Linked DNA regions of Homo sapiens: all the other regions are linked to region 4. The links come from fine-mapping of genetic effects on gene expression. A gene starts in region 4. Each other region holds a variant in brackets. All regions are shown on one strand. Distances are between the middles of the regions.

Region 1 (5,194 bases), 21 kb before region 4:
CTGAATGTTGGCTAGCAGGTCTTACCAGCACTCACAACCCACCCATTGCGGAAGCAGGTTTGGAGAGTCCGGCCCAACTGGAGTCTGAGAAGGGGTCGCTGTCCAGGGGCAGGGGTCAGGAACCCTGGGGGGTGGACACCTGCAAGAGAGAGCAGAAGCGGATAGCCAGAGACCCAGGTATAGGAATGGATGCCAGCAAGGCTGGGCCCTGCTCTGGGACACACAGCATCGGGGGTTCCACAATGGAGCCTCAACTGTCCATCACCTGAGGACCTCTTTTGTCTGCCTGTTAGAGTGGAATGGGCTCTGTCCTTCCCACAGGCACAGGGCCATGGCTCTGCTCCATTTATGAAAGTCAGTAGGGTGCAGGGGTCAGAAGCACAGACTGCAGAGACACCAGGTTTAAATCCCAACTGTGCCACCCACAGGCTGTAAGACCTTTGCCAAGTCATTTCCGTTCTCCATGCCACAGTTTTCCCATCTATAAAATGGGGCACTGTGGATCCCTACCTCATAAGGTCATTCTCAGAATTAAACAGGGTAACTCCCGTGCAGCCCTAAAATGCCAGCTACTTATCAAAGCCTGGATAAAGGGGTGAGAGGTTTTATTTTCTCTCTCTCTTTTTTCTTTTTTTTAACCATATATGGACCACGAATTATTATATTAAAAATAATTTCAACATTTTAGATTTGGGGGCACATGTGCAGGTTTGTTATGGGTCATATTGCATGTGATGCTGAGATCTGGAGTATGATGAATCCCGCTGCCCAGGTATGAGCATAGTACCCAACAGGGCGTTTTTCAGCCGTTCTTCCTTTGAGAGTCCTCAGTGTGTATTCTTCTCATGTTTACAGTCATGAGTACCCAGTGTTTAGCTCTCACTCATAAGTGAGAATGCATCGTGTTTGGTTTTCTGTTCCTGTGTCAATTTGCTCAGGATAATGGCCTCCAGCTGCATCCAGGCTGCTGCAAAGGCCATGATTTTGTCCTTTTTTATGGCTGTGTAGTATTCCTTGCTGTATATGCACCATGTTTTCTTTACCCAGTTCACCACTGATGGGCACCTAGATTGATTCCATGCCTTTGCTATTGGGAATAGTGCTGCGATGAACATACAGGTGCAGGTGTTTTTTTTGTGAAACACTTTATTTTCCTTTGGATACATACCCAGTAATGGGACTGCTGGCTAGAATGGCAGCTCTGTTTTAAGTTCTTGAGAGATCTCCAAATTGCTTTCCATAGTGGCTGAACTAATTTACATTCCCACCAACAGAGTATACGTGTTGCCTTTTCTCTGCAGCCTCATCAGCATCTAATATTTTTTGGCTTTTTAGTAATAGCCATTCTGACTGGTGTGAGATAGTATCTCACTGTGGTTTCAATTTGCATTTTGGTGACAGTCTTTTGAGGACAAAGAAGAGATGTTTCTGGGATGGTCCCTGGGGGGAAGTACGAGAGTGCCTTCCTCTTCCGTGTCAATAGGACATCCTTGTGGAGCACCGCTCTGTGCAGGACAGAGCACCAGGTGCTGGGCTGGGCAGCAGCAAGAAGAGGGGTCCCCGCAGGGGCTGCCACATTGAGGGGAGACAGTCCTCCAAAATGAGAACAGCAGGGGGCCCAAGTGAGGAGAATGAGCCACTGGGATTCCTCAGTCCTGCAGAGGGTCCACTGGTAGCATCTCTGGGAACCGTTCTCTCACATGGCAAGGACACTGGGCGAAGAGACCTCCTGACCGCCTTGGAAACTGTCACATCCTCTTCTCCTCCCTTTTCACTTCTGTGCTGAGCACCATGCATGATGCAGCAGGGACCCGTGGGGGTGGTGGGGAGGGCAGGCAGCCTCGGGCAGCCCAGCCAGCCTCACTGTGCCCACCCGTCCCAGTGCCCAGTGTTGGATACGGACAGTACCTCACCTGGGGGCCATGCTGCCTGCTCCTGCCCCAGCTCACGTGTGCTCACCATTTCAGGCAGAGTCGAGTGCTATGGCCGAGGAGGGTTTTTAGCCCCTGAGTTTCCAAAATAGCGTGTTTTCCTCTCCTCACCGGGTCCTCTCTCCAAATAGTTCTGACGCCTGTGGAAGACCAGGATTTGTCTTCCATTAAGGAGCACTGTGGTTTCCCGGGACGGCCGGCATCCCCTCCATTAAGGAGCACTGTGGTTTCCCAGGACGGCCGGCATCCCCTGCCCACACCCCGCCATCAGAGGCCCACTCCATCCAGAGAGTCTCCCCCACCCATTCCCCGGGGAGTGGAAGACCCACTGGGGTTCAACGTCACAGGCACGTAGTTCCCCTAGTGGACATTCTAGGCCGTGTGTGTCTGTGTCCGCCCGTAAACTCCTCTTTGCTGGCCCAGTGAGGGACAGAGCCTAGAA[C/A]CCCACACGGGATGCCTGCTGGGTCTTGTGGTCTGAGATGCAAGTGACTTCATGCCACATCCCCCAGATTTAGCCTGTCCCTCCACACCCAGGCCACTGCTGGGGCTGCATGGGGCTGCGTGTCAAGACACGTTTTGGTTCTTTGGCCAAGACACGTTTGGATCTTAGGCCACATCTGATGAAGGATGGGGAGGCTGGGCCTGGCTGGGGCTTCAGAAATGTCCAGGAAGATTTCTTCTGTGTTCTCAGAGACTCTCGAAGGAGCTTTCTCAAGTGCTCCTGGTGTTGGTGCAGGTTCTAATACCAGGATGGAGAAAGCCAAGGAGAGAAGATGAGTGTCCTGCCAGCTCAGTCCCTGTGGGCCACTGCCTTTCCTTTGGGGCAGCCTCTCAGCCCCCGCTTGCACTGTTGTTTATACAAACTTCCCTATAGCATGAGAGATGTCCGAAGATGAGGCTCAGCTCTTCACATGCACCTGCTCCTGCAACGTCACAGCAGCCCTGTGCAGTAGGCATGGCTGTGGTCCCTGTGGGTTCATCGAGGCCAGAGAAGGGGAGTAACTTGCCTGAGGTCAACCATTAGGAAATGGTGGAGCTGGAATTGAGTCCAGGCCATCTGGCTCTATGCTGTCATCGGGGGCATAGGATAAGAGGTCCCAGGCCTCCAAGCCTCTCGAACCTGGGCCAGGCGCAGGGTGGGTAAGGGGCACACACAGGCCAAATGCTTCCTCTGGCCTGGACCACAGCCACCCTCCTCTGCAATGGCTGCCCCCACTGCAGGGCCCTAGCACCTGCTTGGAGGCTGAAGCAGGAAGGAGGGGCGGGAAGGGAAGAGAGGGGAGGATGGGGCCTGTGGGCAAGGGTGCCGTGGGGTGCCTTCTGCTCCCATCCAGTCTTTTTGGTCAAAACATCTATGAGAGAAAAGGGAGGGGGAGAGAGGGAGAAAACCTCTAAAAATAAACTCAGCAATAAACCCAGTTGTGCATTAATTACTCTGGAAGCCATTATGGCTTGAAAACCCCATAACTTTAATGGAGGCTATTATAAGCATAGTAGCAAAATCGTGGAGCTAATTACCAGGCAGTTATCAAGCAGAACACAGAGAGCCCCCAGCCTGGAGAACGCCAGCTGGCCGGCAGGGGGCAGGTCGTGGGATGTGATGCCTGGGCTGGGCAGGGGCTTGGGGCCAGGCAGCGGGTGGGCTGCACCTGCCCCCAGCTCTGGGCCCCAGTCTGAGACGGGGCTGCAAGGTTGGCCAGCACTGGTCCCCTCTCGCAGCCTGCTGCTTCTGCCTGGGGCTTGGAGGAGGGCGGTGTTTGTCTGTGGTCGCAGGCTGTCTCTAACAAGGACCCCAGAATGGCTTCTAGGACCTTGGGTCAGGCAGAAGAATCAGCACAAAGGTGCAGGAGTGGCTTGGCCACACCCAGGAGAGCCCAGGAGATGGAGGCAAGCACGGGGAAGAATGGGGTGCTGGAGGAGGAGATGGGTGGAGGCACAAGGGGGACTTCGTGGAGAGGCAGGACGCGGCGTGGGCAGTGTGTGTGAGTGTAGGGCCCAGGCCTGCCGTGGTCACAACTCCCATCCTGACACTTGCACCATATCTGTGACCAACCTCAGATCTCAGGCGTCTCGGCAAGTAGAGACACAAAAGGCTGTGCCCTGCCCTCCCCGGGTGCCCTCAGAGCCTCAGAGGGAAGCAAGCACTTCCCTGTGGGAGAGTGGAGGGTGGTTCCCAGATGGGGAGCAGAAGCTGGGGCAGCACATGGGAGTGGGAGGGTGGCGGCCTGGACGTGTCCGGCAGGTGCTCCACGGGGACCTGGGTCATGCTGATTGCCCTCCTTGACCTCGTCTTTACAATAGGGAGGTTGAGCTGGAAGTTTCAACGATCCTGCCATTTTAGCAACTGGAGGTTACCATAGGGCTCTGCGAAGATGAAGGGATGTCCTATGTGAGGAAAGTGTAGCTCAGTGGGCACCTAGGGCCAGAGGCGAGGCAAGAGCGCCAACAAAACAGCCTCCGTGGAACTGAGTCCTGACTTAAGGGCCAGCACCCGTGGAACTGAGTCCTGACTTAAGGGCCAGCACCCATGGAACTGAGTCCTGACTTAAGGGCCCGTGGAACTGAGTCCTGACTTAAGGGCCAGTATGCCTATGGAGATCGGCCATACTGGGAACACCTCTCTGCAGGAATTTGTGGCATTTGGTTTTGTTTTGAGAGACAGGGTCTCACTCTGTCACCCAGGCTGGAGTACAGTGCCATGATCACAGCTCTCTGCAGGCTTGAGTTCCGGAACTCAAGTGATCCTCCTGCCTTAGCCTCCCAAGTAGCTGGGACCACAGGTACCTGCCACCATGTCCAGCTAATTTAAAATTCTTTTTTGTAGAGACAGGGTGTCACTATGCTGTCCAGCTGGTCTCAACCTACTGGGCTCAACAGATCCTCCTGCTTTGGCTTCCCAAAGTGCTGAGATTACAGGTATGAGCCATGGCACCTCCAGAGAGGAATTTGTCTATGGGTTTTAGGGTGCTGTGCGCTGTGAATAAGGACTAGGGGGTGTCTGGGACTCAGATGGGAAGGCTCTGATTGACCCAGGCTGGGGCAGAACATGTGAGGCTGGAGCATGTGCAGGGGTGGTTCAAGGCTGGCCAATTGTAAAAGCATGGAAAGGTTTTCTTCTGAGCCTGCAGGTGTTCAAACGAAGGCCTCAGCAATGCCTCAGGCCCTGAGGAGAGGAGCTTATTTAATTTCACTCAACAAATATTAATTGAGCATCTGTAGCAGGCAAAGCACTGTGTTGGATTCTGTGGGCAATCCAGGGTGGG
Region 2 (5,194 bases), 32 kb before region 4:
GCGAGAGCTCTGGGAGCCCCGTGAAGGTGGGCTGGGGGATGGTGAGCCGTGGAGCTCACTGAGGCCAGCAGGCTTGCTGCCCGTGTGTGGCTGCCCAGGGGGAGTGCAGGGGACATTCGTGGTGTGCAGCCCAGCAGCTGAGCCGGGTCAAGGGCTTATTAAATGGAGCTTATTAAAGGAAAGCTTGTGGACAGTGGCTTGGGAACAACATGGGGCAGAGTCCCTGGTTTTGCCCAAACTCACCAGTTCTTCTGGAACTGCCTCGGAACGACAAGCATGGGGCTAAGATGTGGATGAGACTCGGGCTACTTGGGTGTGGCCTGAGCCACCTGCAGGGTCTTCTGCCCCGCTTTACCTGAGTGTGTGCTTCTGCAGAGCTGTGTATGAGCTGGTTCCGTCAGAAAGTGATGGAATGGAAGGGAACCTTCCTGCAAATCCTCCTGTAAGGTGGAGAAGCCCCTTGGATCACACTTCCACGCAGACCTGAGCAGGACACACTGTGGTTTCCTAAGGTGAGGTCTTCCTACACCAGCTTCTTATTCTCACCCTTATTTTCTGCCAGTTAATTGCTCAGCTTCTCTATCAAAGTACCTCTTGGCAGAGCTTATTCTCCAGCGTTGACTAAAGATGTTTCCATTATCTTCCACACGGTATGGCCTCATCTAGGTCTCTTTGGAGAATCCCTCTTCATATCCAGCCTCTGAATGCTGGGGGTCTCTGGCCCACTCCTTGGGCTGTTTCTTTCCTCTGTCCACACTCACTGCATAGGGTCTCACCCGTGCACCTGTGGTTTGTAAACAGGTTGGACACCCGCGCCCGCCGATGCTGGGCTGCACCTGAGCTCCAGGTGTGTGGGGGCGCATTTTCTTCTGCATGTGTCTAACAGGCACCTGACACAGAGCTCCATTTCCCCACATTACCCCTCCTGCACGCAGCCCTGTATCTGGAAATGGCAGTGCTGTTCTGTGTCTCGGGCTATTTTGGACCCCTCTCTTTATCTCCCACATCCAATCCAGCAGCAGATCCTCCTGGCTCTGCCTCCTAAACTTGGCCAAAATTTGACTGCTTCTCTCTGCCCCAACCCCATGCCCCCACTCAGCCCACTGCATCTTGGCCTGGATGATTCCAGGAGCCACGTCTCCACCTGCCCTTGCCCTCTCCATTTATCCTCCGTGGAGGAGCAGGGCAGTTCTTCTTAGAGATGGATAGATTATGTTAGTCCTCCGTACTGGACCCCCTATTGCCTTCTGGTTTCACCCGGTGCCTGGGGACTCCCTTCTCCCACGCCCACCACATCCCTCACTGCTGTTGCCCCCAGCAGCCCCCGCCCCGTCAGTTGAGCCCGATGGCCTTCCTGCTGATCTGTAAGCAGGCTGAGCAACGCTTGTTCCGCCTGGTGGAGAGTTCGTTCTTCTTGGGCCCGGGGAGCTGCATGTCAGGGTGTTGCTGCTTCGCTCAAGGGTCACTTATCACGGAGGCCTCTGTGGTCACCCTACAGAGCACTGACCCTCTCCACTGCTACCTCTGTCTCCCCGACTCACCCTCATCCTCCATACAACAGATTGCATCTGAAATAATATGCATTCGTTATTGCCTGTCTCCTCTCGTCAGTGGGTCAGTTCTTTGAAAATGAGAGCCTTGTTTTCTCACTGCTGTGTGTCGGCTCCTAGAATGATGCCTGTTCATAACAGGCACCTGATACATACTTGTTGGGTAGCTAAATTAATAAATGAGAACAAAATAAGGCAGGGCTGAAGAGGATTAGGACTGTTAAAAACTGTATTTGACTTTTAATTTTGAAAGCAAATTAAATACAGTTAAATTAAAACAGACCAGATGCAGCTGCCTGGGTGCCACCCTCACCCCAGCCTCTGTTCTTAGAACTCCTAGCCCCTGGCCTCACTCCTGTGTGGTGGGGCTTGCCAGCGAGGGAGCAGGGAACAGACTGGGTTTGGAAAACAGTGGTCATCATGGACCCATTTCTGATTTATAACAAACTCATTCCCAATAAAGATGAAGGCTGCAGTCCACCAGGGTTATAATTATAAATAAATATACATGCAGCTAAAAGAGGATATTAGGTGAAAACAACTGACCTAGCATCTGCCCAAAGAAGTCCCCATTTTGTTGTTCATTATCAAAGTCCTGAAAATGAACCCTAGGTTTTTGGCTAAGAAGGTGGCCTCAGACCAGCCAAGCTGACCTTGGCACTTGGCTGGCTTCTGTGAGGCAGTAGAGTGCCCACACATAAGCTCACCACCTGTGCCCACCTCCTCCCTTCTCTCCCATGCCACCCCACTTGCTTCCAAGGGCTTGGTTTCCAAAGTGACATCCAGGGTGTAAGAGGTTGGGGAAAACGTCCTGCAAGGTGGCTCAGGGATCTGATTCCATCAGATGGTCTCATGAATACTGTGGGAGATTAAATCCATCTCAAAATAGGCAACCAATGCTATATTCTGAATGTTAGGTCTCTGGACTGAGTCCCACCCACCCACCCACTCAGGAGTGGGTTCTGAATGGCCCTCAGACCTCTCCTGGTGAGTCTTAATGGGGTGGGAGGCTGTTAGTTAAAAAATAAACACCTCTTCAGTAGGCTGGGGCCCTTTCCTTTTCCTCCACTTGGGGGGAAAATTGTGCTTCCAACTTGCAGGAGAATGAGCCGGATCACCACTAGAGAGCCCGGC[T/C]GGGCCAGGGGGTCAGAGCCCTTTCCAGTGGGCCCCAGAGGCCTGGGGAGGGCAGGAGTTTGAGGCACACTGTTCTTTCTCCAGGATGGAAAGTGGACAGCTGGACATGAGGTGGGCTAGCTCTGCATGCTCCTGACTTAGGGAGAAATAACATTTTCTTTCCCTTTTTTGTGTTTAGAATAATTTCCAAAGCAGTGTGCTCAGGCCTCCCTCCTGCTCAGTGTCCCAGCAGCCCCTGCCCCCTCTTTCCCAGCCCCTCTGCTACTCCAGAGTCCCTCCTCCTCAGACCAGGGGCAGGAGGGAGTTAGGGAATGGCCTTGGCCTCCCTCCTCTTTCCAGGCTGCAGGAGGTCCCACCTTGCCCACCACCCACCGCCTTGCCCACTGCCCACCATGGGCTCACTCCACCCTGAGGTCTGTGGCTCTGAAGAGCTGCAGGAAAAGGCGCTTTCCCTCCCCAGTCCAGTCCAGGCGAGGGGCCTAGCAGCCGAGGTGGGCGGTGGGGAGGCAGTGTGTGGACAGTGGGGCCGTGGGGTTCTTAGTCCAGGTCAGGCAGTGACCTGTGCTGGCTCTAGAGCCTACCCCTTTGCCACTGCTGGAGGAGAAGGGGTAAAGGAAGAGGGGCCGGAGGGGGGGACTCTGCTCCCGCCACAGCCTGAGGTACAGGGGGTGCCTATTAGGCCCAGGCTCCCCCCATGCAGGGCTGGGTGCCTGTTGGGATCCAAGACAGCCTTATGCTCTGTAAACGTGAACCAGAGGAGAGCCACAGAGGTATGTCTGATTTGGGGGCAGCTCTCGGGAAGAGCAGGGGCCCAGGAGAGGAGCAGAGCGCTCGTGATGCCCGTGGGCTGCTCTCTGGTCTTCAGAATTCCCTGGCTGGGTGTCCTGTGTGGTCGTGCTGAGCCCAGGGACAGGGAGCCAGGGAGGGCCATGCTCCACTTGACTGCGGGGTCTTCTTATCTCCCTCCCGCCCTGCATCACTGCAGGGCCAGTGTGGGCGCCCACTGCACCTGCTCCTGCAGCCCCGTCAGTGCGGGGAGCTCTGGGGAGGTGCGCTGGAGCACCAGCTTGGCTGGTGCTGGACACCCCACCCTGGCCATCAGGTCTCTCGGGCCCTGGTCACGCTGGATGGAGAGAACAACAGGTCTGGGATTTCTGTGCTTAAATTCTCTGTCCTTTGTTCTGGCATCAGGCTGGGCTCTCTCAGAAGCCCCCAGAATAGAAAGGAGGGTGATGGTGATTCCTTAGGAGTCGGCCTTGGAGGGACCATCAGCCGTGGGGAGAGGATGGAAGGCCAAGAACAGGGTCTGAGGAGGAGGCTCCTGTGAGGGGAGAGGAGGAATGAGTGAGGTGTCGGCTGAGGGTGGGGCCGGGGAGGGAATGGCCAGGCAGGGCCACCAGGACCTCTGCAAAGCCCAGGCCCCCAGGTCCTGTGGGGGCCTTTCTGAGGGGCAGGTGGGGAAGGTGCTTCCAGTGAGGGCAGTGAGGGCAGGAGGCAGAAGTGAGGCTCGGTACAGATGCATTCTAAGTGGCGCTGGCCAAGGTGACTGAGTGACACCCTGTGGTCCTCTGCGGGCAAACACAATACAGAAGCTATTGCTTAGCTCCAGGGCAAGAGGACAAATGTCTGTCTCAGGCCTCAACCTCTGTTTGGCATAACCTAGAGTAGGGAGTCAGGAGTACCAGCTGCTTTTAAGAGACAGGATAAGATCACAGAAAAGCCCCTGAAAATGCCTGGCTTTGCCAACCACCCAGCACAATTCACTCGTGCCAGTGTGTCACCTTGGAACATTCATTTAGCTTCTCTCAACATCATTTCTTTGCTTCTGAAGTGTAGGTGGATCCTGTGGCCTACTTCCAGAGAGGGCTTTAAAGACTTGAATAAAAATAGCCACACTGATGAGATTTAAGTGCCATGAACTGTTCTAGGTGCTCTCAGCAACCTACTTCACAGATGAAGAAACTGAGGCCCAGAAAAGTCAAGTCAGGTCAAACAGTGAAGAGCAGGGGTCCTGGGAGCTGAGGTGGGCTCTGGGTCCGTGCTGTCACTCTGCGCTACCTCTCACTATGACAGCCGTGGGCTCATTGCTGTGGAGCAGCGAGTCCGTGAGTCCTCACCATGGCCACGTGGTGAAGGAATCCACAGGGGAAGAGGCAGACTTGGGGGGACAGACGCTGGCCAGCGAGAGTCTGAATGGCAGTGCCTTGTGGGGTGCAGGCGTCACTGCCAGCAGAAAAATCAGCAAGATGTTTGGAAGGTGACACCCTCTGAAGAGTCTGGTGGCAGAAGGACCCAGCTGCGTGGGTGAAAGTTAATGCCTGGATACTTTCAGGTGGCCCAGTGGGAAGGGGACTGTGGTGACGACGCCCTCCACTCCTGCCCACATCTGCCCTGTCCTCCACAGTGAAAGCCCAAGAGGAAAAGAATGAGACAGTTGATTCGGCCCAACCTGGTGCCGCCCTGCCCAGTGTGTGGCCCACCCTCGTCATGCCCATACCTGCATCCTGAGG
Region 3 (5,194 bases), 85 kb after region 4:
TATTGAGATAATCATGTGGTTTTTGCCTTTGATTCTGTTTATATGCTGGATTACGTTTATGGATTTGCATATGTTGAACCAGCCTTGCATTCCAGGGATGAAGCCCACTTGATCATGGTGGATAAGCTTTTTGATGTGCTGCTGGATTCAGCTTTCCAATATTTTATCGAGGATTTTTGGATCAATGTTTATCAGGGATATTGGTCTAAAATTCTCTTTTTTTGTTGTGTCTCTGCCAGGCTTTGGTATCAGGATATGCTGGCCTCATAAAATGAGTTAGGGAGGATTTCCTCTTTTTCTATTGATTGGAATAGTTTCAGAAGGAATGGTACCAGTTCCTCCTTGTACTTCTGGTAGAATTCAGCTGTGAATCCATCTGGTCTTGGACTTTTTTTGGTTGGTAGGCTCTTAATTATTGCCTCAATTTTAGAGACTGTTATTGGTCTATTCAGGGATTCAATTTCTTCCTGCTTTAGTCTTGGGAGGGTGTATGTATCCAGGAATTTATCCATTTCTTTTAGATTTTCTAGTTTATTTGCATAGAGGTGTCTCTGATGGTAGTTTGTATCTCTGTGGGATAGGAGGTGATATCCCCTGTATTATTTTTTATTGCATCTATTTGATTCTTCTCTCTTTTCTTCTCTATTAGTCTTGCTAGTGGTCTATCAATTTTGTTAATCTTTTCAAAAAAAACAGCTCCTGGATTCATTGATTTTTTGAAGGGTTTTTTGTGTCTCTATCTCCTTCAGTTCTACTCTGATCTTAGTTATTTCTTGCCTTCTGCTAGCTTTTGAATGTGTTTGCTCTTGCTTCTCTAGTTCTTTTAATTGTGATGTTAGGATGTCAATTTTAGATCTTTCCTGCATTCTCTTGTGGGCATTTAGTGCTATAAATTTCCTTCTACACATTGCTTTAAATGTGTCCTAGAGATTCTGGTATGTTATGTTGTGTCTTTGTTCTCATTGGTTTCAAAGAACTTCTTTATTTCTTCCTTCATTTTGTTATGTACCCAGTAGTCATTCAGGAGCAGGTTTTTCAGTTTCCATGTAGTTGAGCGGTTTTGAGTGAGTTTCTTAATCCTGAGTTCCAGTTTGATTGCATTGTGGTCTGAGAGACAGTTTGTTATAATTTCTGTTCTTTTATATTTGCTGAGGAGTGCTTTACTTCCAACTATGTGGTCAATTTTGGAATAAGTGCAATGTGGTGCTGAGAAGAATGTATATTCTGTTGATTTGGGGTGGAAAGTTCTGTAGATGTCTATTAGGTCCACTTGGTGCAGAGCTGAGTTCAATTCCTGGATATCCTTGTTAACTTTCTGTCTCATTGATCTGTCTAATGTTGACAGTGGGGTGTTAAAGTCTCCCATTATTATTGTGTGGGAGTCTAAGTCTCTTTGTAGGTCTCTAAGAACTTGCTTTATGAATCTGGGTGCTCCTGTATCGGGTGCATATATATTTAGGATAGTTAGCTCTTCTTGTTGAATTGATCCTTTTACCATTATGTAATGGCCTTCTTTGTCTCTTTTGATCTTTGTTGGTTTAAAGTCTGCTTTATCAGAGACTAGGATTGCAACCCCTGCCTTTTTTTTGTTTTCCATTTGCTTGGAAGATCTTCCTCCATCCCTTTTATTTTGAGCCTATGTGTGTCTCCGCACATGATATGGGTCTCCTGAATACAACACACTGATGGGTCTTGACTCTTTATCCAATTTGCCAGTCTGTGTCTTTTAATTGGAGCATTTAACCCATTTACATTTAAGGTTAATATTGTTATGTGTGAATTTGATCCTGTCATTATGATGTTAGATGGTTATTTTGCTCGTTAGTTTATGCAGTTTCTTCCTAGCATCAATGGTCTTTACAATTTGGCATGTTTATGCAGTGGCTGGTACTGATTTTTCCTTTCCATGTTTAGTGCTTCCTTCAGGAGCTCTTGTAGGCAGGCCTGATGGTGACAAAATCTCTCAGCATTTGCTTGTCTGTAAAGGATTTTATTTCTCCTTCACTTATGAAGCTTAGTTTGGCTGGATATGAAATTCTGGGTTGAAAATTCTTTCTTTAAGGATGTTGAATATTGACCCCCACTCTCTTCTGGCTTGTAGAGTTTCTGCCGAGAGATCAGCTGTTAGTTTGATGGGCTTCCCTTTGTGGGTACACCCGACCTTTCTCTCTGGCTGCCCTTAACATTTTTTCCTTTATTTCAACTTTGGTGTATCTGACAATTGTGTGTCTTGGAGTTGCTCTTCTTGAGGAGTATCTTTGTGATGTTCTCTGTATTTCCTGAATTTGAATGTTGGCCTGCCTTGGTAGGTTGGGGAAGTTCTCCTGGATAATATCCTGCAGAGTGTTTTCCAACTTGGTTTCCTTCTCTCTGTCACTTTCAGGTACACCAATCAGACGTAGATTTAGTCTTTTCACATAGTCCTATATTTCTTGGAGGCTTTGTTCATTTCTTTTTCTGTTTTTTCTCTAAACTTCTCTTCTCGCTTCATTTCATTCATTTGATCTTCAATCACTGATACCCTTCCTTCTGGTTGATCGAATCGGCTACTGAAGCTTGTGCATTCATCACGTAGTTCTCGTGCCATGGTTTTCAGCTCCATCAGGTCATTTAAGGTCTTCTCTACTCTGGTTATTCTAGTTAGCCATTCGTCTAATGTTTTTTCAAGGTTTTTAACTTCTTTGCCATGGGTTCAAACTTCCTCCTTTAGCTTGGAGAAGTTTGGTCATCTGAAGCCTTCTTCTCTCAACTCGTCAAAGTCATTCTCTGTCTATCTTTGTTCTGTTGCTGGTGAGGAGCTGCATTTCTTTGGAGGGGGAGAGGAGCTCTGATTTTTAGAATTTTCAGCTTTTCTGCTTTGGTTTCTCCCCATCTTTGTGGTTTTATCAACCTTTGGTCTTTGATGATGGTGACATACC[G/A]ATGGGGTTTTGGTATGGATGTCCTTTCTGTTTGTTAGTTTTCCTTCTAGCAGTCAGGACCCTCAGCTGCAGGTCTGTTGGAGTTTGCTGGAGGTCCACTCCAGACCCTGTTTGCCTGGGTATCACCAGTGGAGTCTGCAGAACAGCAAATATTTCAGAACAGCAAATGTTGCTGCCTGATTGTTCTTCTGGAAGCTTCGTCTCAGAGGGGCACCCTGCCGTGTGATTGAAGTCCCCCATTGTTTTGTTTTGGCAGCTGATTTAGTAAACAAACAAGAATGAAGAAGGAAACCATAGCTGAGTGGCAGAGCGTGCCTGGCTGTTTACACAGGACTCCAGGGCAGGGCTCCTGGAGAGGGACGTGCCAGAGGGATGGGCCGAGGCCCAGGAGGAAGTGAACCTGCTCAGGGGCAGAAAGGAGACAAGAGAGAGGTGAGAGAGGAGGGCAAGAGCCAGGCCTTGGAGGCTGGGCCACCAGGAAATGAGTTTGCACCTTATTGGGAAGCCACTGGGAGGCTTGAAGGAGGGTAACAAACTATGATTTTAGAGACCAAAAAAAGGGTTCCTTGGTGCCTGGGTGGAGGACGGGCTTCAGAGGAAGAAACTGTGAGCTCCTGGAGTGCAGGCATGAAGGCAGGAGTGTCCTCGCTCCAGCCCTGGGCACGGGCCTAGCTCCTTGGTGCTCAGTGTGTAGTGGGGGCATGTATTAACTGGAATGGTGCTTTGCTTTTGTTCTCTGTACTTTGGGTGGTGGACAGCTTTCCTCTGTGGTGCTCTTTCTCCTTCCCTTCATTTTCCCAGGGGTCCATCCTCTGCATTTACCTGGGAGGGAGCTCTGTTACCTGGGGAGGGGCTCACAGTCCTAGGCAGAATGGGGGCTCCCAGTGCCAGCTCCTAGGGCAGGAGCGACAGCCTCAGAAGCCTCAGCACTCAGATCTGTATCACGGTCCCAACCAGAGCCTTGTTGTGTGCAGAGCCCTCCCTCTGCAGTGAAGAGCCTGAGGAAGCCATGTTCTCGCTGAAGCCGGAGTGGGCTGGCTGGGTGCCTGGCTCTGGCACTGAAGCTGCCTCTCGGCTCACCTCCCAAGCAGCAGGGCATCTTGGGGGAAGGCAGTGTCAGCCCATGGTGCTTTGCTCTGTCTCTGGCTCCTGGACTGGGCTCTGAGCCCAGACAGTTTAATGCCACTGTGGACTTCATTCCAGGGGGTGTGGGGACCTCTGGAGAGTTCCACAACCCCATGGGGTAGGGCTCCTGGTGCTGGTTGAGGCCAGGCCTTCAGTTGGACACAATTTTGTCGTTGCCGCCACTGACTGCCATCTGGGTCGCTGCTGTTAGTTCCCAGTGGGGCTCAGCTCCCCTACAGATGATCTCTGTAGCTCACCCCAGCCTGCAGATGGAGAAAAACAGTAGGCCCTGCCGGAACACGCTTTGGGAGCAGCCCATGGTGGCCTGGGGGCTCTACAGGAGCTTCCCCTCCCCCTCCCACCAGTGAAGAGGAAGGTGCCACCGGTACCCGAGAGTGTTGTGTGTGCCTCCATGCCTCCCATGTGCAGCGTGGCTGTGCACGTGTGAGAGTGGGTGAACATGCCCACGTGTGCATGCAGGTGCGTGTCCCACAAGACACCCGTGCTCACATGCACACTCCTGTGTGTCTGCTCATGTGTCTGTGTATGTACTCGACTCAACCCAGGTTTATCGAAGACCTGTTATTGAAGGTCTGCTATGGGCCAGGCCCTGTAGGGTACTCCGGGACTGCAAACTCGATCTTTTTTTGCTCTTATGGACTGTTTAGTCCAACAGGGGAGGCGGATATGAATTGAGCAATTAAAGGTTACATGTAAACTGTCAAATGTGAGACACGCTCCTGTGAGTTTTCATGTATTAGTGAATGGACGCTTCTGAGGGGCATCTGTGTCCCTGGGAGGAAACTTGTGTCTGCTGGTGCTCCCGTGTGTGCCTGTGCACACCCATGCTGGTTCTTGCACACACCTCGTCTCTATAAGAGGGCTGCAGAAAAGAAGACTGGATGTGCACGACATACTGAATCTGAGGATCTGGAAAGAGAGAGCAGGGAGCAATGTCTGAGGATGTCCTGGAGACTCTGTTGATGGGCCCCAGGAGACCGAGCCATGCACGGGACTCTCAGGTCCCTGAAAGAGCCGTTGAGTGGCCTGGTGGGACCACTCAGAGTCTGGCCATCACCCTCACTCTGCCCCGATCAGTGATATGATCTCAGGCTGTCGCCTTGGTTTTCTCATTCGTAAAATCATGATCG
Region 4 (5,194 bases):
GCCGGGGCTTAGAGAGCTCTGTTTTTTTCAAAGTCTACTCGGCTAGCCACAGATGGAGATGAGACTGGACCTCAGACAGCCTGGCCAAGGGCCTGTCCCCACTGCACTTCTTCCATGTCCCCTGGCTAGTCTTCAGTAGGGTCCCCAAAGGTCTTTTTGCCTGGGGGCCTGGGGAGGGGGTGCATGACTTCTCTTCTTCTCCTGAGTGCCAGGTTTCCCCAGACCCCACATCCTTCCCCACTGCCCTGCATTCCAGGACCAGGAGGGCTGGGGCAGGGCCAGAAGATGGAGAGGAGCCCTCAGCATTGTGAGATGCTCAGGGGTGAAGGGTGTCCCTGAAAGTCCCTGCAAGCTCTTGATGTGCTTGACCTCATAGCCTGGCCTCCCTCTGCCTTTGGGCTTCTGTCTAAAAGACCCTCACATTCCTGAGAGCCACAGGAAAGCACCTTCCTCAGTAGAATGTCCAACTGCTCTAGTGAGGGGCCTCCTGCAGGGGTGGACAATTGCTGAGGTCGATGTAGGGGAACAGGGGGAGGCCCCCAGCCTGCCCCAACTCACCACTCAGTCAGGGAGGCCCTGACTTCTGCCTGTGTGCCTCCCTCTGCTGTCCGCCAGTGCGCCTCCGTGCCTTTGTCTCTTGTCTCACTGCCTCTTTCTCTGCCTCAGTCAGGCTCTCTCTCGGATTCCTCCTCCTCCTGAGCCCGTTCCTCTCCTCCTCTCCATTCTCATCAGAGAGGAACACTCATCCCTCTCTTCCAGAAACAATGGAGCACCATGCTCCTGTCCGCTCAGCCTTTCGGTTGGTGCATCCTCTTCCCCATCTCACACTCCCAGCTCCTGGCCGGCCTCATCACCCTGTGCTCCACACCTAGGAAAAGTATATCTGACTTGGTCCCCTTATCCCCGAGAAACCACTAAGAGAACCTTCAGGTCTCCCCAGAAGCCGAAGCTGAGGAACTGGGCTTGCCCCAGGGCATCCTCCTGTGAAGCTCCTTGGTCTCCGCCACGGGCTCCAATCCTGTTGCTGGAGCTTATCTCCTCAGTGATTTACCTGCCCCCTGCTTCTGGTGGAACAGTGAGTAACTGCCCAACCAGAAACCTACACACACATATTCAACACAGCGCCTGCAAGCTTCCAGCTCACCTGGACCTGGAGTGATCCCCAAGCATCCTGGGGTCAGGCACAGAAACAGGAACAGCGAGCTCCTGGCTCCAGTGCTGAATGGGGCACAGATGCATTAACTCTCCCAGTCCCATTAACCTTAGCAAGTATTTCTGCTTCCATGAAAAGGGGAAGAGGGAAAATGTCTCTAAGCTCTGGAACCTTTGGCAGTGCTGGGCATGGACTGGGCAGAGTGAGAAGTCTGTCTGAAGACCCTGGGAAAGGGTCTTCACCCCATGGGAAGAAAGGGAAGGCTTGATGTTTGGTCCAGTAAGGCCATTAATGGTCACCAACTGAGCAGACTCTGGGAGGAAATGTCTCAGTCTCTGCAGTGGCTACCAGCAGAGGTAGGGCGACATAAGCACAGAAGACAAATCTTAGAAAACCCTAGAACAACAGTCCTGTGCAGCCACATGCCCCACAGCCCTAGTAACTTAGGGAGTGATGTGCCTCCCATTTCCACACAAACACATCCAGGCATTGCACAGTGCTAGGCCCTACGACATCCGTACCCCAACATTTTCAACAGTGCGTGCTACACAGCCCAAGCTCTAGGCCCCATTGGGCACCCCACCTATGCAGGTGCCCATGCACTGGGCTAGCAACTGTCAGTAAAGGTCCCCTTCCTGTATGTCCAGAGTCCTTCAGCTCCAGCTTCTACAAGAATCCATGCAGCTAGGCCTGGCTGGGGGAGGAAGGGGACAGGGAAGTTGGCCAAGGCTCCCATGTGTGTGCATGTGGGGGTGGTTCTTGACCTTAGCTGCTTGGTACGGGGCTGTCACCTCCTTACCCTGGCACTGTCGGACCTGGTGGCTTCCTTCTCTATTTCCTGCCTCAACTCTCAGCCTCCTTTTTCTGGAAGTTGTGTGCTCTGACTTTGGAGGGATTGGGACCTCAGACCTGAGCCCAGGTGCAGATGGGAGGGTGGTGAACTGGTCGCGCCTCCTTCCTCCTTGCTACACCGAAGGTCCCAAGGGCCCTTTGCCACCCTTGCTACCCCTGGGTCCCTCAGCGCGCCCCGCAGAGCTCGGGCCCCCTCAAGAGAGTTAACTTGGCAGTGCCCAGGAGCCAGAGAGCGATCCAGAGAGCGCTGTTGGGCAGCAGGGGTGGGGAGGTGGGGGACGACTGACCCCTGACTCCTCATCCGGCCACCAGAAACCACCTGCTGAGGGGGCCGGGAACTGACGACTGAGAGCCCGGGCCGATTGTTAGAAGCTGCTGAGAACCAGCTCTTCCCCTAATCCCGGTCGACGAGGGCAGGCTGTGCCGGGTTTTGTTTCGCAGCCCCTCGGCAGCAGCGCCTCCCAGCCCGAGCTCGGTTCTCGGCCCCCTTTCCAGCTGCCCCCAGCGCGCGCAGCGCACACACACACACACACACACACACACACACACACCCCAGCGCGCGCCCGGGAGGACATGGCGTGGGCACCGATGGGGACGCAGAAAGGGGCTCTGTGCGCGGCGGGGCGCCCGCGGGGGCGCGGGGAGCACTGACCTGCGGCGACGAGTCCGGAGCGTCTCCGGTGCGGTCCATCGCGGGCAACGGCCCCTACGCCCCGGCCCCGGCGCCCCTAGACCGCTGCCCTGGGCCGCGTGCGGCTCCCTCCCCGGGGACTGTCGGGCTCCGGGCCCCCGGGGGCCACTTCATAGCCGCGGGGTCCGCGCGCCCGCCCGCCCCGCCCGGCCCCGCCGCCCCGGCCCGGCTCGTTCTGGGCTCAGCGAGGCGGCGGCCGAAGGCTGGGAGCGCGCGGGAGGGAGGGCGCGGGCAGGGAGGCGGGGGGCGGGGGGCGGGGAGGGGGAGCGGGGAGGGGGAGCGGGGAGCGGGCGCGGGGGCGAGAGGGGCGAGGGGGGCGCGCGGCCGGAGCCGAGCCGACCGGGCCGGCGCAGAGTCCCCGAGGTGGCGGCGGATGCGCCGGTGCCGCCGCGGCTCTGCCGGCGCCTCCCGCCCCGCCCCCACCCGCTCTCCGCCCCCGCCCCGCCCCCGCCCCGAGCCCGCGCCAGCGCCGGCGGGACCCGAGCTGCTAATGGTCGGTACCAACCTCGCCAGCCTAGGCGGGGGCGCGAGGAGGGAGGCCGGCGAGGGGACCCCCCCCCGGGATTGGTATCACCTCCCCACCGCCCCCCACCCTCCCCCGGCACCGTCCCCCGCGGAGGCGGCTCCCGCTTCAGGCGGCGGAGCAGGGGTGGCGGGCAGGGGCCGAGCGCACCCCCAGATCTCGGCTCTCGAGAGTTAAAGCTCGGCCCCCGCCTGCACCCCCATTCCACCCCGCCTCCATCCTGGCTGCTCCTGGCGCCCAGCTTGGCAGCCTCTCTCAAAGGGTGATTGTTTCCGGCCGGGCTGCTGCAGGAGGGCGGGGGGCGGCGCTCTGGGACCGAGAGGCCGAGCTGGGAAGCCGGTGGGGGATGCGGCTCCTTCCTTGGCTCCAGGCACCCCGGATGGGAGGTGGCCGGTGGGGGCGGACGGTGCCGTGCCGGGGTACGGGGTCTGCTGCCCCGTGGAAGGGCACCTCGAGCCGCCGCGCGTCAGCCTCACCCCAGCCTCCCCTTCCGGGCCGGTGCACCCGGCGTTCCGGAGAGAGGCCCGGGAGGCCTGCGTGGGCGGACGGGCGCGGGGAGGCCGGGGGCAGCGGGATCTCCAGGAGTTTCCCGGGCCTCTGCCGCGGTGTGTTGGTCGGCGGGGGACGGAGGCCAGTGAGTGGGCGCGCACTTGGACGTATGTGGGTGCACTGGTAGGGTGCCTCTGTGGAGCTGTATATTCCAGATACTCCTTCAGCTTGTCGGAGACTTTGAAGCCATCCTTGCACTCGTTTTAGAGGTTGGCATCTCCCGGTGCTCTTGGACACCTGTATTCGGGCCACACCCGCTGTGTCCTCTTCACAGCCCCAGGAGAAGGCCACCTCCCATGGCGGGGTTCGCGGCGGGACCAGGGACTGTCGGTACTTTCTCTAGGGTCTCCCTCCTTCCCGGGAAACCAGTTCCAGCCCCACTGCTAGGCACTGCTTAACCAGAGCTGTGCCCCCGTGCTATGGGCTGGGGCTGAGGACCACGGGCCTCTTTTCCATCAGCTTTCCTGCCCTGTTAGGACCAAGCCGGGCCCTGCTCTTCCCACTGAGGATGTGCAGGTGGGGAGGGGGCAGAGACTCCAGAATCAGCCCCTTTGGTCAAGATTTTGAGGGGAGGAAGGCACCTCACCGTCCGTATCATGCCACAGACATGTGAAAGTGTCCTTAGTGACTATCTCTAGGGATAACTGCTCCTCCTTGTCGTGCGCTCTTTCATTGTTGTGCTTAACAGCCCCCTTTGCCGGCAAGAAACTTCCTCTGAATCTAACCTCAGTACCTCCTGCTGCGGTACAGGAGCATTTCCCCCTTCTCTTAATGAGTGGAATCCCAGCCAGCCTTGCTCCGCCTTCTTCTGCCCCTACTACAACCCTCTCTTTTAGACTCTGCTAAGAGACCTTTCCTAAGTCGGTGTTCTCTGGTATTTTCCTAGTCTCCATACTCTGCTTCTCCTTAGACTCCACACCAGCTGAAGGGAGGGGAAGGGCAGGTGCAGAAGCAGGATGGGCGGGGGTACCAGAGAGCACCAAGGAGGGGCCAGGCCGTCCAGGAGGGCACATTGCCTCCCTCCTCTGCTAAGCCAGCCAGCCGCAGTCACACAATCACCAAATGGGAGGACAGAAATGACCGTGAAGACTGTCTCGTTCCAGACCCTCATTTTACCAACAGGGAAACACACCCATGAGGGGTGATCTCAAGAGAGCTCAGGGACATGGCGACGAGGAGGCCTGGGTTTCAGGCCGATTCTGAAGGCACTAGCAAAAGACTTCCCCTCAGGGCTGGTTTCAGTAATGAAACAGAGGGTTGGACTAAGTGGGCTGTGGTCCGACTTGTCCTGCTGGGCTGTGGCTCGGAGATGCTGTCTGCAGGGGTTCTCGGCTTTACCTCAGCATTCTGGCAGGAACAATTGTGATAATAAAGCCGCTTTCAAGGGACCTGTCTTGCATCTTAGTTCCAGGCTCTGTTTACAGAA

Which allele goes with the higher level. Alleles are on the strand shown, and positions count from the first base shown. SD is a standard deviation of normalised expression in the study named. Not every link is listed here.
As copies of T replace C in region 2, the expression in sun-exposed skin of the gene that starts at base 3,093 in region 4 goes down (small effect, 0.28 SD a copy in GTEx).
For the expression in minor salivary gland of the gene that starts at base 3,093 in region 4, allele A in region 3 goes with a higher level than allele G (moderate effect, 0.70 SD a copy in GTEx).

The links. PIP is the estimated chance that this variant, and not a neighbour inherited with it, causes the effect. A credible set is the group of variants that fine-mapping cannot tell apart.
Region 1: its variant is the best candidate, but not a certain one, in a credible set for the expression of B3GAT1 in whole blood (TOPMed, PIP 0.82).
Region 2: its variant is the best candidate, but not a certain one, in a credible set for the expression of B3GAT1 in sun-exposed skin (GTEx, PIP 0.56).
Region 3: its variant is the best candidate, but not a certain one, in a credible set for the expression of B3GAT1 in minor salivary gland (GTEx, PIP 0.58).

Annotation. Positions count from the first base shown.
Region 1 is chr11:134,387,802-134,392,995 of GRCh38, forward strand. B3GAT1 (beta-1,3-glucuronyltransferase 1) reads right to left here. Exons shown (of 6, transcript NM_054025.3): 2 at 1-139. Among named protein-coding and RNA genes, the nearest start is that of B3GAT1, 22 kb to the right of the region's middle. The variant C/A (reference allele first, on the strand shown) is at 2,374.
Region 2 is chr11:134,376,743-134,381,936 of GRCh38, forward strand. It overlaps B3GAT1 (beta-1,3-glucuronyltransferase 1), which reads right to left. Exons shown (of 6, transcript NM_054025.3): 5 at 5,182-5,194; 6 at 1,766-4,005. LOC124902798 (a long non-coding RNA gene) reads left to right here and starts at 54. Exons shown (of 2, transcript XR_007062961.1): 1 at 54-512; 2 at 1,322-1,599. RefSeq lists an enhancer at 1-618. The variant T/C (reference allele first, on the strand shown) is at 2,685.
Region 3 is chr11:134,494,518-134,499,711 of GRCh38, forward strand. The region is part of intron 5 of B3GAT1-DT (B3GAT1 divergent transcript); the gene reads left to right. Among named protein-coding and RNA genes, the nearest start is that of B3GAT1-DT, 61 kb to the left of the region's middle. The variant G/A (reference allele first, on the strand shown) is at 2,919.
Region 4 is chr11:134,409,150-134,414,343 of GRCh38, forward strand. B3GAT1 (beta-1,3-glucuronyltransferase 1) reads right to left here and starts at 3,093. Exons shown (of 6, transcript NM_054025.3): 1 at 2,658-3,093. RefSeq lists an enhancer at 1,682-2,241.